2 separate regions of the Homo sapiens genome follow, and region 1 is linked to region 2. A link means that fine-mapping ties the variant in region 2 to the expression of a gene that starts in the linked region. Tissue or cell type: whole blood. Region 2 holds a variant in brackets; the other region holds the start of a gene. All regions are shown on one strand. Distances are from middle to middle.

What was found. PIP is the estimated chance that this variant, and not a neighbour inherited with it, causes the effect.
Region 1: it holds the start of KRT8, and the variant in region 2 is fine-mapped to the expression of KRT8 in whole blood (TOPMed, PIP above 0.99).

Annotation. Positions count from the first base shown.
Region 1 is chr12:52,903,558-52,906,227 of GRCh38, forward strand. It overlaps KRT8 (keratin 8), which reads right to left and starts at 1,519. Exons shown (of 8, transcript NM_002273.4): 1 at 1,101-1,519. The coding sequence starts at 1,424. RefSeq lists a silencer at 290-459.
Region 2 is chr12:52,959,356-52,962,199 of GRCh38, forward strand. No RefSeq gene overlaps it. Among named protein-coding and RNA genes, the nearest start is that of KRT18, 12 kb to the left of the region's middle. The variant G/A (reference allele first, on the strand shown) is at 1,649.

The DNA of each region.
Region 1 (2,670 bases), 56 kb before region 2:
CCAATCCTCGGGGCCGCCGGGGGCCCGGGGCCCCTCAGGCAGCGGAGTCCCAGGGCTGCAAAACCCGGCCTGGCTCCTGCTGTGTGAAAGTGGAGCCAGGCCGCTGGGGCGGAGCAGGGACAGGACGCGAGAAAGGGACACGGGCTGAATGGGCGAGGGGCGTTGGTGGGCGACCGCGTTATCTGAAGCCATAAACTTAACAGGACGTAAACCCCGGGCGGGGCGTCCCACGCCCGCAGACTTTGAATCCTGCATGGGCTTTCCGAGGCCAGGCCCTGGCGCCTCCTCCACCCCACCCCAGCCCACCCCACCCCACCCCACCCCACCCACACCGCCCCCGACGCCGAGCTCCGCCAGGTGGAGGAGAGCGTCCCGAGACTGCTGCCCGCAGCCCCTCACCCCGCCCTCGGCCCCGCCCACGCTGCCGGCGCAGGGGCCGGGGTATGACTCATTCTGTGACCCCCGCACTCAGGCCTCCGGGCGCCAAAGGCCTCAATCAATATTTGCCCGTTTGAACCGAGACACCCACTTCCTTCTCCTAGAATGCTAGAATCACACCAAACCCCTATGTAAAAAAAAGAAAAGAAAGAAAAAAAATCACAAAGGCACCACTGGGGAGCCCTTGGGGTAGTGCTGGCGAAGAGGCGAACCTGGAGGAGGGTAGTCCCCGAACAGCTGGGACTGCCGCAGGGCGATAGCTTAAAAGACGGTCAGAACTCGGGTTGGGGTGAGAACAATAACCGCTATTATTTTTTATAATTTGGGGACAGAATGACCTGAGGAAGAACGGGATTTGTAGAGAGGGGTGGTGGGAACTAGGCTGTACCCTTAAGTTGTCTCTCTCTTCCAAGACCCTCCAGTTTAAAAGGGAAGAAGGAAGCCCCAGGATTCATCCCGGCTGTCCAGACCCTCTCCCCACCCTCACCCAGCCCAAACCAAGGTGCACGGGAGGGGTGAGTCGGAGGATGGAAGGGAGAGTGTCGCCAGGGCGGGTGAGGCCCAGCAGGACGCCAGCTGGGGGCTGGAGATGTGCATAGGGACCGGGACTACCAGGAGAAAGGGGCTGCGGGCACAGTCAGCCACGCAGGGGGGACCCTCACCTTGTCTATGAAGGAGGCAAACTTGTTGTTGAGGGTCTTGATCTGCTCCTTCTCCTGGGTGCGCACGGCCTGGATGTTGGGGTCCACCTCCAGGACAAGGGGGCTCAGCAGGCTCTGGTTGACCGTAACTGCGGTGATGCCTCCCATGCCGCTGGCCCCACCATAGCCGCCGCCCAGGCCACCGCGAAAGTTGCTGCTGCCCACTCGGGAGAAGCTCGAGGAGCTGATGCGGGAACCGGGCCCACTCGTGTAGGAGCGGCTGCTGAAGGCCCGGGGGCCAGAGGTGGACACCTTGTAGGACTTCTGGGTCACCCTGATGGACATGGTAGAGGCAGGAGTGGAGGCAGGCGGGCCGAACCAGGCGGAGATCCTAGAAGGAGCGGAGAAGCTGCTTCTTGGTGAGGAGAGCTCTCAGGAATGGCCTTTTATAAAAGAGATCCCAGCCCCGGGGGATGGGGGGGAAAGGCCTCGTACCTGAGTGGCTAGGCCCAGAGGGGGCTGGGCCTAACCCGTCACCTGCCACCTCCGGGCAGGACTCAGGTGGGGGCAGCAGAGAGCTGCCGCCACCCAAGGGCCCGTTCCAACCCTGGAGCCCACTCCAGCACCACCCCCAGAAACCCAGGAAAAGGCAGTTCAGTGAATATGAAACTGGAAGAAATCCTGTCCTGGCACAAGTGCCTGTAACAAGCAGACTTGCCTGGGCCGCCCAGCCACTACAACCCTGACTCCTGGGTCTTGTCTCCCTCCCTCCTGGGGGAAATAAACTGGAGGACTGGGAAGCATGGGAAAAAGGGGTCTCCTAGTATTTGGGTCTCCTCTGAGCTGCCGACACCCCAGAGAAACTCTCCTGTGTTCTCCCTGATTGAAGCGATTATGAGGGCCTGCCTGAGCTGGATGACAGAACAGCTGGAGTCCAAAGCCTTGAATCTGAAATCAACCATTTGCCTCATCTTTCCAGGTTACTGTTCTACCCCTAGCACCTGGTGCAGTGCCAAGAGGGTCTGGGTAGATATTTGTGGAATGAATGAATGAATAAATAAATGAGTGAATAAACATCACACGCGCACACACACACACACACACACACATACACATACACACACAGTGGCTGTCGTCCCTCTACATCTGAAGGTGCAAGATAAAAAGAGATCCAAGGCCAGGCACGGTGGCTCACGCCTGTAATCCCAGCACTTTGGGAGGCTGAGGTAGGCGGATCACGAGGTCAGGAGTTCAAGACAAGCCTGACCAACATGGTGAAACCCCATCTCTACTAAAAATACAAAAATTAGCTGGCCATGGTGTAATCCCAGCTACTCAGGAGGCTGAGGCAGGAGAATCACTTGAACCCGGGAGGCAGAGGTTGCAGTGAGCTGAGATCGTGCCACTGCACTCCAGCCTGGGCGACAGAGCGAGATTCCATCTCAAAGAAAAAAAAGAGCGAGATCCAACACAGCACTTTTCCTGAACATAACCCAGGGGCTTCCTCTCCTTCCAAGATCCTAGGATCCCCTGGGCCAGGTGAACACTGTAGGCCTCACTGAAGGGCCTAGAGAATGATGAACAGGGCTAG
Region 2 (2,844 bases):
CGACTTAAAACAATATACATGTTATCGGCATGGTGGCTCACGCCTGTAATCCCAGCACTTTGGGAGGCTGAGGTGGGAGGATCACAAGGTCAGGAGATCGAGACCATCCTGTCTAACACAGTGAAACCCCATCTCTACTAAAAATACAAAAAAATTAGCCGGGCGTGGTGGCGGGCGCCTGTAGTCCCAGCTACTCAGGAGGCTGAGGCAGGAGAATGGAGTGAACCTGGGAGGCGGAGCTTGCAGTGAGCGGAGATTGCACCACTGCACCCCAGCCTGGGCGACAGAGCGAGACTCAAAAAACAACAACAACAACAACAACAACAACAAAAACAATGTACACGTTATCTTACAGTTTGTTATCTTACCGTTTGGTATATCAGAAGCCCTATCAGGGCTTCTGCAGAGCTATTTTCCTTCTACAGGTTGTAGGTGGAACTGGTTTCCTTGACTTTTCCAGCTTCTAGAGGTCACCTGCATTCCTTGACTTGGTCCCATCTGCCATCTTTAAAGCCAGCATCTTCAAATCTCTCCCCACTTCCCTCTCTCCTGACTTCTGCTTCCATTATCCTCACATCTCCTTTCTCTGACCCTTCTGCCTCCTTCTTATAAGGATCCTTTGATGACATTAGATTTACCCAGACAATGAGCATAATCTCCCCAACTTAAGATCTTTGATTTACATGGCAAGGTCCCTGTTGCTGTGTAAGGAAACTCACAGGCAAAGAGGGGCGGTTAGGATATGGACATCTTGGGATGGGAGGGGACCATTATTCAGCCTACCATAGGAAGGGGGCAGCAGATTGCAGGATTTTTTGTTTTTGTTTTTCTTTTGAGATGGAGTTTCATTCTTGTTGCCCAGGCTGGAGTGCGATGGCTCAATCTCAGCTCACTGCAACCTCCGCCTCCCGGGTTCAAGAGATTCTCATGTCTCAGCCTCCCGAGTAGCTGGGATTACAGGCATGCGCCACCATGCCAGGCTAATTTTGTATTTTTAGTAGAGATGGGGGTTTCTCCATGTTGATCAGGCTGGTGTCAAAATCCCAACCTCAGGTGATCCACCTGCCTCAGCCTCCCAAAGTGCTGGGATTATAGGCGTGAGCCACCACGCCTGGCCAGCAGATTGCAGTTTTAAGTAGGGCAGCCTGGGCAGGAAGTGACATTGGGCCAAGACTGAAGGAGATGAGGGACCTAGCCTGGCATATCTTGGGGATCAGCAGCGAGGATGGGTCCTGGGTGTATGAGCAGCATCTCTCAGCCCCCGACCTGCACATTCAGGTTTGCCCTTGTATGTACCCTTAGGTCTCCTTGGGGCCCACAGGGCATTGGGAAAGGGTCGACTGCCAACGTACCTTGCCCCAAAGCTCCTCCTCATCCCCCCTGCACCCTGCCACTGAAGGCCCTCACAGGCCACCAGTCTAAGTCCAGCAGCCTCCCCTCTCTCCTCATCTTTTTCAGCCTCTGCAGCACTTGACCCTGATGTCCTTCTGCTCTTGACCTGCACACCACTGCGCTCCGCAGTCCTCTCACCTCTGCCTGCTGCACTTCATCCATCTGCCCTTTAAACACAGGCCTTGCAGGCTGTCCTCAGCTTTTTCTCTTCTTGGGCCTTTTTTTTTTTTTTTTGGAGATGGAGTCTAACTCTGTC[G/A]CCCAGGCTGGAGTGCAGTGGCACAATCTTGGCTCACTGCAACCTCCACCTTTGGGGTTCAAGCGATTCTTCTACCTCAGCCTCCCAAGCAGCTGGCATTACAGGTACCCACCACCAGGCAGCTAATTTTCTGTATTTTTAGTAGAGATGGGGATTCACCATGTTGGCCAGGCTGGTCTTGGACTCTTGACCTCAAGTGATCCACCCACCTCAGCCTCCCAAAGTGCTGGGACTACAAGTGTGAGCCACCGTGCCTGGCCATGGACAATCTTATTTTTATTCCCTGACTCTGTTGCTACCTCTGAGCTGGTATCTCAATATTTACCTCCAGCCCTAGCCTCTCTTGAGCTTCAGAACCGTGCTATATTTTCCAACTGCCTTTGTTTCATTTCATCATGTGGCATACTTAGCTATTTATGTCATCTTCCCCATGAGACTGGAAATGCCTTGAAGACAGGTACCCTATTTTTTTGTTTCTTTGGTTTGTGTTATTGTTTTTTGTTTGTTTGTTTTGTTTTGTTTTGAGACAGTTTCACTCTTGTTGCCAAGGCTGGAGTGCAATGGCGTGATCTCAGCTCACTGCAACCTCCACCTGCTGGGTTCAAGTGATTCCCCTGCCTCAGCCTCCCAAGTAGCTGGGACTACAGGCATGCGCCACCACACCCAACCATTTTTGTATGTTTAGTAGAGATGGGGGGTTCACCATGTTGGCCAGGCTGGTCTCAAACTACTGACCTCAGGTGATCTGCCCACCTCAGCCTCTGAAAGTCCTGGGATTCCAGGCGTGAGCCACCGCACCCAGCCTACCCTGTTTTCTTCATCCTGGTGTCATCCTGGATTGGTCATATAACAATGGCAATTACCATAATAACCAGTATTTGGTTTTTTTTGGGGGGGACAGAGTTTCACTCTTGTCACCCAGGCTAGAGTGCAATGGCACGAACTCAGCTCACTGCAACCTCTGCCTCCCAGGTTCAAGTGATTCTCCTGCTTCAGCCTCCCAAGTAGCTGGGATTACAGGCGTGCACCACCATGCCTGGCTAATTTTTGTATTTTTAGTAGAGATGGGGTTTCACCATGTTGGCCAAGCTAGTCTCAAACTCCTGACCTCAGGTGATCCACCCACCTTGGCCTCCCAAAGTGCTGGGATTACAGGCATGAGCCACCGCGCCTGGCCAGTAACCAGTATTTACTGA